Linked DNA regions of Homo sapiens: all the other regions are linked to region 2. A link means that fine-mapping ties the variant in region 2 to the plasma level of a protein whose gene starts in the linked region. Region 2 holds a variant in brackets. A gene starts in each other region. All regions are shown on their reverse strands.

What was found. PIP is the posterior inclusion probability: the model's chance that the variant is causal. Protein levels are from antibody-based Olink assays in UK Biobank. Linkage for the fine-mapping came from a reference panel and not from the study's own genotypes, which makes the PIPs less certain.
Region 1: EBI3 starts here. The variant in region 2 is fine-mapped to the plasma level of the EBI3 protein (UK Biobank, PIP 0.98).
Region 3: it holds the start of IL27, and the variant in region 2 is fine-mapped to the plasma level of the IL27 protein (UK Biobank, PIP 0.98).

What each region holds. Positions count from the first base shown.
Region 1 is chr19:4,227,650-4,231,925 of GRCh38, reverse strand. EBI3 (Epstein-Barr virus induced 3) reads right to left here and starts at 2,403. Exons shown (of 5, transcript NM_005755.3): 1 at 2,309-2,403; 2 at 603-735. The coding sequence starts at 2,375. RefSeq lists enhancers at 629-1,130, 2,094-2,183.
Region 2 is chr3:12,227,803-12,232,085 of GRCh38, reverse strand. No RefSeq gene overlaps it. Among named protein-coding and RNA genes, the nearest start is that of PPARG, 59 kb to the left of the region's middle. The variant T/AT (reference allele first, on the strand shown) is at 1,668.
Region 3 is chr16:28,503,225-28,507,224 of GRCh38, reverse strand. It overlaps IL27 (interleukin 27), which reads left to right and starts at 391. Exons shown (of 5, transcript NM_145659.3): 1 at 391-444; 2 at 3,175-3,347; 3 at 3,432-3,530. The coding sequence starts at 414.

The DNA.
Region 1 (4,276 bases), not on the chromosome of region 2:
AATTGTTTTTAGAGACAGGGTCTCACTATTTTGCCCAAGCTGGACTCAAACTCCTGACCTCAAGTGATCCTCCCACATCAGCCTCCCAAAGTACTGGGATTACAGGCATGTGCCACTGTGCCCAACCCAGGAAGTAGTTTTTTTTTTTTTTTTTTGAGATGGAGTCTTGCTCTGTTGCCCAGGCTGGAGTGCAATGGTGCCATCTTGGCTCACTGCAACCTCCGCCTCCTGGGTTCAAGCTATTCTCCTGCCTCAGCCTCCGGAGTAGCTGGGATTACAGGCATGAGCCACTGCACCTGACCAATTTTTAAAATTTTTCGTAGAGACAGTGTCTCACTACGTTGCCCAAGCTGGTCTCAAACTCCTGACCTCAAGCAATCTGCCCACCTCGGCCTCCCAAAGCGCTGGGATTACAGGCATGCACCACTGTGCCTGGCCCAGAAAGTATATTTCTATTGGACGGGGCCGCCCTAGAATTCCATAGGCCTGGGGTTCAGGATGTCGGGGTCTCCAGTTTTCCTGACCCCAGGGCTCTCAGGGCCAGAGTTCTGGGCTCTCCAGGAAGTCCAGTGTCCCTGAGGCCCCCTTCCAGGCTCTCCGACCTGTACGTGGCAATGAAGGACACGGGGCTGGTGGAGTTTGGAGCAGGCGGCAGGGTCCAGGAGCAATCCACGGCGATCGGGTACCGAGAGGCTCGGCATTGCACCCGGGGCAGTGTCAGAGCTGCTGGGGGCCCTGGAGGAAGACAGAAAGAGTGAGCTTCTGGTTTACCCCCAGATTGTCATAGCCCTCCCGTGCGCTGGGCTCCTGCCACGTTGCCAGCCAGCACCAGGTACATGGTAGGTGCCTAATAAAGGCTTTCGGAATAAATAGGTACATGGACAAAAGTCATCTGTCATCTTTTATCCCCACTGCAATCCATCTAGGTGAGGACTACTAGCCCATTTTCCAGATAGGGAAGCTGAGGTTTAAGCATCTACAGAGAGGAACTCGGGTAAGAGAGAGAGATTTTACCGTGTTCTCTCTTTTGTAATTGTTTTTTTTTTTTAAAGAGGGAGTCTCCCTCTGTCGCCTAGGCTGGAGTGCAGTGGCGAGATCTCGGCTCACTGCCACCCCCGCCTCCCGGGTTCAAGCGATTCTTAGCCTCCCGAGTAGCTGGGATTACAGGCATGTACTGCCACGCTTGGCTAATTTTTGTATTTTTAGTAGAGAGGGAGTTTCACCATGTTGGCCAGGCTGGTCTCAAACTCCTGACCTCAGGTGATCCACCTGCCTTGGCCTCCCAAAGTGCTGGAATTACAGGCGTGAGCCACCAAACCCAGCCTATAAATTATTATTATTATTATTATTTTGAGACAAGGTATCCCACTCTGTCACCTAGGCTGGAATGCAGTGGCACAATCATAGCTCACTGCAGCCTCCAATTCCTGGGCTCAAATTATCCTCCCACCTCAGCCTCCCAAGTAGCTGGGACTACAGGCACGTGCCACCACATCTAGCTAATTTTTTAATTTTTTGTACAGATTGGTGGGGTCCGGTTTCACTATGTTGCCCAGGCTGGTCTCGAATTCCTGGCCTCACGATCCTCACGCCCTGGCCTCCCAAAGTGCTGGAATTACAGGCATGAGCCACCATGCCCTGCTGTAACCATTTTGTCTTCAAGGACATGGAGATGTTCTCTAGTGCAAAATGAATGAATGTCGGCCGGGCGCGGTGGCTCACATCTGTCATCCCAGCACTTTGGGAGCCCGAGGTGGGTGGATCACCTGAGGTCAGGAGTTCAAGACCACCCTGGCCAACATGGTAAAACCCTATCTCTACTAAAAATATAAAAAGTAGCCGGGCATGGTGGCGGGCACCTGTAATCCCAACTACTCGGGAGGCTGAGGGAGGAGAATCTCGCTTGAACCCAGGAGATGGAGGTTTCAGTGAGCTGAGATGGTGCCACTGTACTCCAGCCTGGGCGACAGAGTGAGACTCTGTCTCAAAAAACAAAACCAAAAAGAAACCAAAGGAATGAGTGTGACTCAAATTCGCATGTCTGTGTAGCTATGTCTGTGTAGCTCTATGGATACCTCTGAGCTGTGACTGCCAGTCCCTATCACCCACAAGGTGACATCCTTCCACCCCCAATGTGGCACTCTGCCTCTCTGTGCCTCAGTTCCTCCATCTGTACAATGGGAGGGTAACCCCATCCCACCATTGGGCACGGGAGGATGTGATTTCCCACCCCAGACATGATCCGAGGCCAGTCCTCGTGTCATGTCCGTCTGCCTGGGCCCCCCAGTCCCCCAGGGGCCCCACATACCTTTCCTTCCACTGCAGGGCGGGCAGCTGGCCCAGAGGACAAGGGCCAGGAGAAGCTGCGGGGTCATGGCTGCGGCCAGCTCTGCTCTCAGGAGTGGGTGGGAACGTCGTGGGAGACTTGAGAGGGGAGGTGAGGACTTGGGACCTGCCCAGGGGAAAGCCCAGCCCAGGGTCAAGGCCCGCCCCCTCCCCGACTTCCTTCAGGTCTGACTCACTGGTGGGGCTCGTGGGGCCGCTAGGGAGATGAATTAGGGTGTGGAGGAGCCCCAGCCCCCTGGGGAGCACAGGCCACCCCTGCTCGGAAGGCCCCGAGGGTGGGGGCGGGGGAGGAGGCTGTGAAAGGGAGAAGTGGAGACCTGCTGGCTTTTCCCAGCACAGCATGTCCTGCTGGCCTTCCTTCCGCTGCCCTGAAGCGGGGGAAACCCCAGGCAGGCAGGCAGGGGCTCAGGGACATGGAGGGAGACAGAGGCAGAGATGGGGGAGAGAGGCAGAGAGACAGAGAAGACAGAAGGAAGACACAGAGAGACAGGGAGATGACAGAGACAGAGACACAGAGAGAGACACAGATGAGAGAGGCAGAGAGACAGAGACAAGAAGAGGAGGACACAGAGATAGAGGGATACAGAGACAGGGAGATGACAGAGACAGAGACAGAGAGACACAGATGAAAGAGGCAGAGAGACAGAGACGAGAGGAGGAGGACACAGAGATAGACAGGGAGATGACAGAGAGACACAGAGACACAGATGAAAGAGGCAGAGAGAAAGAGACGAGAGGAGGAGGACACAGAGAGAGAGAGACAGAGACAGGGAGATGACAGAGACAGAGACAGAGAGAGACACAGATGAGAGAGGCAGAGAGAAAGACAAGAGGAAGAGGACAAAGAGATAGAGAGACAGGGAGACGACAGAGACAGAGAGAGATACAGATGAGAGAGACAGAGATGAGAGGAGGAGGACACAGAGATAGATAGAGACAGGGAGATGACAGACAGAGAAAGGGGCATGACAGAGACAGAAACACAGAGAGAGACACAGAGATGAGAAAGGCAGAGATGAGAGGAGGAGGACACGGAGATAGACAGGGAGATGACAGAGACAGAGACAGAGACAAAGATGAGAGAGTCAGAGAGACAGATGAGAGGAGGACACAGAGATAGAGGGATAGAGAGACAGGGAGATGACAGAGACAGAGAGAGCTACAGATGAGAGAGGCAGAGAGACAGATGAGAGGAGGACACAGAGATAGAGGGATAGAGAGACAGGGAGATGACAGAGAAAGTGACAGAGATACAGATGAGAGAGGCAGAGAGACAAATGAGAGGAGGACACAGAGATAGAGAGAGACAGAGACAGGGAGATGACAGAGACAGAGAGAGATACAGATGAGAGAGGCAGAGAGACAGAGACGAGAGGAGGAGGACACAGAGATAGAGAGACAGGGAGATGACAGAGACAGAGAAAGGGGGATGACAGAGACAGAAACACAGAGAGAGACAGAGATGAGAGGAGGAGGACACAGAGATAGATAGGGAGATGATAGAGACAGAGAGAGACAGGGGAATGAGAGAGACAGAGACAGAGATGAGAGGAGGAGGACACAGAGACAGAGAGAGACAGGGAGATGATGGAAACAGAAAGAGAAACACAGAGAGCAGACAGACAGAGGAAGAGAGACAGAGGGACAGAGATAAGAGAGGAAGACAGAGATAGGGAAATGAGAGAGACACAGAGACAGAGATAAGGGAGGAAGACAGAGAAAGAGAGACACAGATGGGAAGATGAGAGACAGAGACAGAGAGACAGAGATGAGAGAGTAGGATAGACAGAGATAGAGAGATGGTGGGGCACGGTGGCTCACGGCTGTAATCCCAGCACCTTGGGAGGCCAAGGCAGATGGATCACCTGAGGTTGGGAGTTCGAGACCAGCCTGACCAAAATGGTGAAACCCTGTCTCTACTAAAAATACA
Region 2 (4,283 bases):
AGCCAGTTGTTCATAAGCTAACACTCTTGCATGCGTGGTGAGATACAGAGCATTCTGTCCCACCCATTAAGGCACGCCATGAAGAATTAGAAACAAAACTATCAAATTAGTTAAAAAACAGAACAGGTTGAGTCTGTGTGCAAGCAGTCTTAAAGAATCAAGACACTCTGGAAAGATGAAGGATTGATTGATGAGCAACATACTCAAAGTCTATCAAAGACAGATTTTAGCAAAAGGACGCCGGGACTAGGGAGAATCCAATAGAGCTTGAAAATGAAAGACTTGACCAATTAAAGAAATGTGCTCCTAAAGTCCCCAGAAGAGGCCCAGCCTGTGAGTATAGTATAAAATAAGAGTTTGATGGATGAACATACCAGGGCTGAAAGATGATTCACACAGATCGAAGAGCCTCCTTGCATGTGGTTTGGTAGTTGCCATTACACATGTCTATCTCAGCTGCACACAGTCCCCCTGGAGCCAGAGGAGCTCATGTTAAAAGTGTTGCTATGGGCTGAATTGCATTACCCACCCCCCAAAATGCCTATGTCGAAGTCCTACCCCCTAGTACTTCGGAATGTGGCTGTATTTGGAGATAGGGCCTTTAGAGGAGTGATTAAATTAAAATGAGGTCATTCCGGCAGGGCCTAATCTGATATTACTGGTGTCCTTCTATGAACAGGAAATTTGGACACAGACAGCTACAGAGGGAAGACCACGTGAGGACACAGGGAGAAGGTGGCCGTCTACAAGCCAAGGAGAGAGACTGCAGGAGAAACCAACCCTGCCAACACCCTGATCTCGAACTTCCAGCCTCGAGAACTGTGAGACAATCAATTGTTGTTGTTTTAGCCACCCAGCCTGTGGTACTTTCTTATAGAAGCCCTCACAAACTAATACAATTGCAACATACACCTTTATTTATTTAGCAAACACTTATATAGAGCTTACTATGTGTCAGACACACTTCTAAGCACTTTACAAATATAATTTAATCCTCGTAGCAACTCTGCGAGGTAGGGACTACTATTGTTCCCCTTTTAAGGATGAGGAAACCACAGCACAAAGAGGTTCAGTAATTTGTCGCTGTCTCCTACTTAGCATTAATAAGTGAAGGAGCTGGGATTGGAACCTGGGTGGTCTGACTCGAGTCCACTGAATCCCACCCTACACATTCTCTGTTGCGTTGTCTCCTGGGATTTAACTAGGGGCTCCAAGGTACAGGCTAAAACTTGTCTCCATGGTTATAAGTGTGTGTGAGTTTTTAAAAACCTAACACCACAGGGTCCCTTACTGCCAGGTGGATTGAAATCACATTTCATAATGTTTTTCTAGATGTTTAAGCCTCATATCAAGGGAAACAATCCAGGATTCCTGCAAAATATCTGCCGGTCCTTCATGAGAGGCCTCTGCAGGCCTGGATGAACAATTCTCATTTCTTACCTAGCAACATTCCACAGAGGTACGACAGGGTGATATTGTCTCCTGTTAACAACACAGATAACTTCTTCTAGTTATGCAGACCTTGAGGAATGGCACTAGAGGCAGCGTTCTGCAGCCACACAACACGGCATGGAGTCCAAGGACTTTTCTTTCTGCATCCTTGTCTGCAAACAGACTGCCAACCAACCCATGTGCAGATGCTTGATTTCAAAGTGTGAAAAAAAAAA[T/AT]CTTTCTGCAAAATCAACCAGAGAAGCCAAACTTAATTAATAAACATTCTAGAACATGAGTAACTGGCGCTGGGTTCAGAGGGGTAGGACTCACTGCAGGGAAAGAGGGAACCCTTTATCCTTGGCCAGGAAATGCAAGGGCTTTGAAGCTTGGTGTTGTCTTAAGTGGTATTTTCCACGAGGAGCACCAGAGCTGGGCCGCAGTTCAGTGGGGAGAGTTCATTCCTTTCTAATTATTAAATGGAAGGAAAGTACACATGTCCAACCTGCTGAACATGCCACTTCAACCTTGCCCGCACCGGGCCGCAAACCTTCCCACACCCTGCCCTTTAGAGTTTCAGGTTTAAGGCTTTGTTTGCAGTTGTTCTCTGCTCAGAGTCATATGTATGGGAGCCAGAAACACACCTCTTTCCTTTTTCCCGTTGCAGCTGACTCACTTGTAGCTTTTTATGGAGGTGACGGAGAGAGACCAGGGAGGGCATGAGAGGCCAAGATGGCGCCAGCGCAAGTTTGGACTTTAGTGAATCAACATTCTTAGTGATTGAGAGACAGAGCTGAGGGAGGGGCTTCTTGTGGCGCATACACTCAGCAGCCTTTCCACTTTCCTCAAGAGCTGATGCTGGACCCCACATTACCCAGGGACCATCTTGATAGAAGGTCAGCAGCAGAACCTGCTGCAATCGTGACCAACGAAATAAAGCCCAAAGTACACTCAACAAAAGCGGGGCAGTGACAGGCCACCTTCCCTACGCCATTTCCCCTCATGTCCAGTCAAAAGCTCAGCTTCCTTAAAACGATCTATGTGGTTTTCTATCTTGTTCTAATAGGAAGCCTTGCACTTTTTTTCTCCCCTGCATTATCTCGGGTATTTCTAAGCAGGCCGCAGTCCCAAGATTTCCACTGCAGAGAAACACTAAGCAAGCTTGTTGGCAGTGTCCTTTTGTTCTGGGAGCCAGCTCTGCCCCAGGTGTTCTAATGTTGACATGTGCTGCAGGGAGCCGACTTAGAACATCTGAGAACAAAAGGAGAAAAACATTATGAAACGTGATTTCTACCTGGATATGCCAGATAGGAAGGAAACATCTCTGTAAGAAAGCAGGTCTCAGCCTGAATCCCAGTGCCCTAGGGAAGAATGCCAGGAGGTTAGTGGCGGTGATGGTGGTGGTGGGGGCTAGTGCAGAATGAGGCTCAAGAATTTTTAAATGAGGCCACCTGGCTCCAGACAGGCAGCAGGACACTAAAATACCTGCAGTACCTTAGGTATCAGCACCCACCAAACCCCTGGGAAGGATGTGGGTCATTTTGGCACAGTCCATTCACCTCTGGCAAATACAAGAAGCCACGTCAGATTCACCCACACCAGACACAGGAGAACACTTCTTAAGAAGCCAGTTCAGAACATTCCAGGAGAAGCCAGGGAAAGATTTTTATAACTCAGATCTTTGTAGATCTGTGATATCTTTGGAGATGTTGCTGCAGAATGGAGTTGTGATCAAGGCTGGGTTTGGCTTTTTCTCTGGGTAGTTTAACCCAAAGGGAAGGCTTTGGAGAAGTCTGGTTCTTCTTGCTCTCTTCACCCCGTCCCCAACCCCCTCCATTAAACTGAAGTTCTTTATCACTCCCTTTAGGAGATATGAAAACACAGCAGGTAGCTTTATGCTCCTTCAGGTCCTCCCAACTCGAATAGCAACATTGCTAGTTTATCATTTCCAGCTAAGTCAGGCAATACCTGCTATGCAGGATTTCCAGGCAAAATAATTTACTGCAAGAAACTGTCAATTGCTTGTCTGCCTTGGTGACTCCAAAGAGATTGACAAAGACCAGAGATATGAAAGGGAAATATTTGTGAAATAGAATCCCCCAGCTTGGCACCACTCTTATCTTTTTTGAGTAATTCTAAGACGCTTATTCACGTCGAAAGCTCACCCTGATGGCCCTCCCTGATGAATATTTGTATAATTGGATATTCATTTGTTACTTATTTAATTAACCAATTTGTTTAGATGGAACCCAAGTTTATGGGAAGTGAACCAATTTGCATGTACTTTTTGGTCAGAAAAAGAGGTTCATCCTACCACAAAGCGAGGCTAAAATTCACACAGAGATGTATGTTATGTGAGGCATTTTATAAAAGGAACGTGCACATGTCCTAACAATTATTTTAGTACATTGGGTTCACCTGCAGCAGATCAAATGGTCTCATCAAGCTTAAAAAAAAAAAAACTATTGATGAAAGTGCCTAAACATTTTCTCACCCAAGCTAAATTGCGTTGGTCAAATTTTGCTGATGGATTGCATAACCGAATTAGGAACTGGGAATGCCAGAAACCCACTTGAGGTTGACAGAGCAATGAAGTTAAAATAACTGTGGTCACCAAAGTACTGAGTCAAGAAAATTCTCTTGGTTCATGGAGTGATTTGGAGAGAAAGTAAAAGGAATTCAGTGGTTATGTGGCAGAGTACCAAGCTTTCTGAATCAAGAGACCTAGCTTCAAGTTCCAGCTTTTGTCACTATTACCCAGCTCTGTGACTCTGGGGAATTCACTTCTCCTCTCCGGGCTTCATCTGTGGTATCAGGGACTTAGATCAGGTGATCTCTAAGATCCCTTCGACGAC
Region 3 (4,000 bases), not on the chromosome of region 2:
GCAATCCCCTTACCTGGCTATCCATCTTTGGAAGGACAGTAGACCCTAGGATGATGGTGGCAGAGCCGAGAATCAGGAGGGGGTTTGGGACTCTGGGATCAACCAGTGAATAGGGCTGGATGGCTCACCCAAGCATGGGACATTGAGGACAGGGCTGGACGTGGGAGCTTAGCAGTGAGTCTGGAGCTTGGATGTCCCGAAACCCCAGCTTCCCGTCACCCCCCATCATACCTCCCACCCCCTCCGGGAAGGGAAATTACATTTCCCCATTTTAGCAAGGGGTGGCGAGAGGGAAGAATGAGTGAACACAAAGCTGAAAGTACAAGCAGGACGGAAAGTGAAACCGGGCACAGCCCCCAGTATAAGACCCCCCCTACCCAGGAGATGGCTGACCAAAGAGGCTGGGCCCCGCCATGGGCCAGACGGCAGGCGACCTTGGCTGGCGTGAGTTTGAAGCCAGGGGTGGGGGGCTTGGTTGAGTTTGGGCAGAGAATGGACGAGCTTGGCTGGTGCAGATGGGGGGTCGAGAGCTGAGAGCAGCAACTTGGCCAAGACTGAGGATTCGGCTGGCTGCTGCATGGGAAGGGAGGCTGGCATGACTGGGTGGGGGCCTGGGGCAGTGGGGTGGTGGTCTGACCCAGGGCTGGGCAGAGGATGAGAAGGAGGCCTTGGCTAGTGGGAATGGGGAGGGTTGGACCAGCAATTTGACAAGGACCAGGTCTAGGCAGATAAATGAAGAGTTTGGAGTGAATAAGCAGAAGCCAAACAGCTTGGCTAAGACTGAGAATGGGGCCGGCTGGAGGAAGAGCAGAACGAGGTGCTGGCACAAGTGGAGCACTGGGACCAAGATGTCAGCAGCCTCACTGGGTCAAAGGTCTTTAGTTTGATGTTGGAAAGAGGTCCAATCTGCGGCTGGTGGCTGCAGAACTCAGGGGCTAGAACCAGAGCAGTAGGCAGTGGAGAAGGTAACATGCCACGTAGGGCAGGTAGGGACCAAAGGCTGGAGGATGGAGACAGAGCCTTCAAAGGCCAGAGCCAATGACCCAGGATCAGCTGCAGAGGGTAAGGAGGGGGTCTGGGGTCTCCAGAGGTCAGGTTGGAGATGGCACAGCTCACTTACGGTTGGGCTTGATCCACCAGGGCCTGGGGGCACCCACCCTGTCCCCAACATTGAGCTAGGAAGAACCCCACTCTGCCTTAAGTCTCCAGGATGTCAGAGGGTCCGAGTGGCCCCAAAACCAGGGAGTCTGAATGCCAGAGATCTTACGTTAGGCATCGCCCACCACATCTGCAAGCCCACGAGGGAGGTAGATGTCCCTAGAAGCTCCCCTTCACCTTTATCAGGGGACATTTCGAAGAGCAGAGCCCAGGGGTTAGAGATTGAGAGAGGACAGGGAAGAGGCAGGGAGAGAAGGGAGAGCAGGATGGACTTCGGGCCAGTTTTGGTTTGTGTTTCGAGGAGAATTGTGTAACTCTTGTGCTTGCTAGATTTCCTCTCCCTGAGGGGGAAATTGATGAATGCTGCCCTCTTCCTAGAGCGCCCATCCGCTGCCCCTCTTTCCAGGAAAACACAGGTCAGGAAGCACACTCGGAATTCAGCCATTCTGGGCTGGGCGCAGTGGCTGATGTCTGTAATCCCAGCACTTTGGGAGGCCAAGGCAGGCGGATCACCTGAGGTCAGGAGTTGGAGACCAGCCTGGCCAACACGGCAAAACCCCTCTCTACTAAATATAATAAAAATTAGCCAGGCGTGGTGGCTACTCAGGAGGCTGAGGCAGGAGAATTGCTTTAACCTGGGAGGTGAAGGTTGCAGTGAGTCGAGATCGCGCCACTGCACTGCAGCCTGGGTGACAGAGTGAGAATCTGTCTTAAAAAAAAAAAAGCTCCCATACTGTGGATTCGCCCCAGGCAGGTTACCCTGCTAGGATCCACCTGCCGTGGTGGAAACTGGACAAACCTGTCCTTTTGACTCCCTGGAATAGAGCCTCTGGCATTGCCAGCCCATCCCTGGGGACCTCATGGCCAGTTCAAGCCATCAGAGCCGCTTGGCTGAGCCCAAAGAATCCTTGCCAGAACATGGTGTGCCCACTCCTGGGGCAGATGGCTGCCTCCCTCTGCATTCTCTGGGGAAAACCCATGGGCTCTGCATTTGGAAAAACCTGGAATCCAGTCCTGGCTTCCCACCTTCTGGCTATTTGACCTTGGGCAAGTCAACCTCACTGAGCCTCACCTGCAAATTGGGGAGAACAATAGCACTGAGGCTGCCACACGTGGTTGTGCAGGTTGCTCACTGAAAAAGGCATTTGGCCAAGGGAGTTTATGGGGGTCAAAATCCAGTCTCTGTCCCGGCACAGTGGCTCATGCCTGTGATCCCAGCAATTTGGGAGGCTGAGGCGGGAAGATCTCTTGAGGCCAGGAGTTCAAGACCAGCCTGGGCAACATAGTGAGACCCTGTCTCTACAAAAAAATAGAAACAGTTAGGCACAGTGGTGTGTCCCTGTGATCCCAGCTACTTGGGAGGCTGAGGCGAGAGGATCACTTGAGCCTAGGAGTTCAAGGCTACAGTGAGCTGTGATCACACCACTACACTCCAGGCTGGGTGATAGAACAGAACTCTGTTTCAAAAAAAAAAAAAAAGGATCAGGCTTCTGGTCTTTTTGCAAAAGTGGGCACACCATGCGGAGATGCCATATGGGGGCCGTGCTGGCTGCATCGTGGGGTTTTGTTTTGTTTTGTTTTGTTTTGTTTTTTTGAGACAGAGTCTGGCTCTGTCGCCCAGGCTGGAGCACAGTGGTGTTAGCTCACTGCAGCCTCTGCCTCCCAGGTTCAAGCGATTCTCCTGCCTCAACCTCCTGAGTAGCTGGGATTACAGGCATGCACCACCACGCCCAACTAATTTTTGTATTTTTAGTAGAGACAGGGTTTCGCCATGTTGGCCAGGCTGGTCTTGAACTCCTGGCCTCAGGTGATCCGCCCGCCTCGGTCTCCTAAATTGTTGGGATTACAGGTGTGAGTCACCGCACCCAGCCTCCATTGTGGTTTTGAGGAGGCAGAGGAATGATGCTGGTCAAAGTGCCTGCACCGTGCTCACAGCTAGCACAGGCTCAGAAAAGGCATGTTCCCTTCCTTCTCAAGCTCTCTCCCTGTCTTGCCACCCTCTTCCCATCTCTCCAGGGCTCAGCCTGTTGCTGCTTCCCTTGCTCCTGGTTCAAGCTGGTGTCTGGGGATTCCCAAGGCCCCCAGGGAGGCCCCAGCTGAGCCTGCAGGAGCTGCGGAGGGAGTTCACAGTCAGCCTGCATCTCGCCAGGAAGCTGCTCTCCGAGGTTCGGGGCCAGGCCCACCGCTTTGTAAGTCCCCCTAATGCAGCTGGCGCTGGAGATGGGCAGACCCCCAATCCCTTCTGGCCCCCACTAACAGACCTTGCCCCCCAGGCGGAATCTCACCTGCCAGGAGTGAACCTGTACCTCCTGCCCCTGGGAGAGCAGCTCCCTGATGTTTCCCTGACCTTCCAGGCCTGGCGCCGCCTCTCTGTGAGTGAGGGCTGGTGGAGTGGGGCGGGAAGCTTGTGATAGGCTGGGGCCAGGGTGCAAGATGAGGCTGGAGATTGAGCTGGAGATGCATTGGGGATAGAACCTGGATAAGGCTGAATATGTCATTGGACATAGAGATGAAAGACAGGCATGGTGACTTACACCTATAAACCCAGCACTTTGGGAGGCCCAGGTGGAAGGACTGCTTGAGGCCAGGAGTTCAAGACCAGTCTGGGCAACATAGTGAAACTTTGTCTCTACAAAAAAAAATTTAAGAGTTAGCCAGGCATGGTGGTGTACACCTTTGGTCCCAGCTACTCAGGAGGCTGACATGGGAGGATTGCTTGAGCTCAGGAGTTGGAGGCTGCAGTGAGTTATGATCCTGGACTCCAGGATGGAGAACAGAGGGAAACCCTGTCTCAGAAAAATAAATAAACTGCCAGGCGTGGTGGCTCATGCCTGTAATCCCA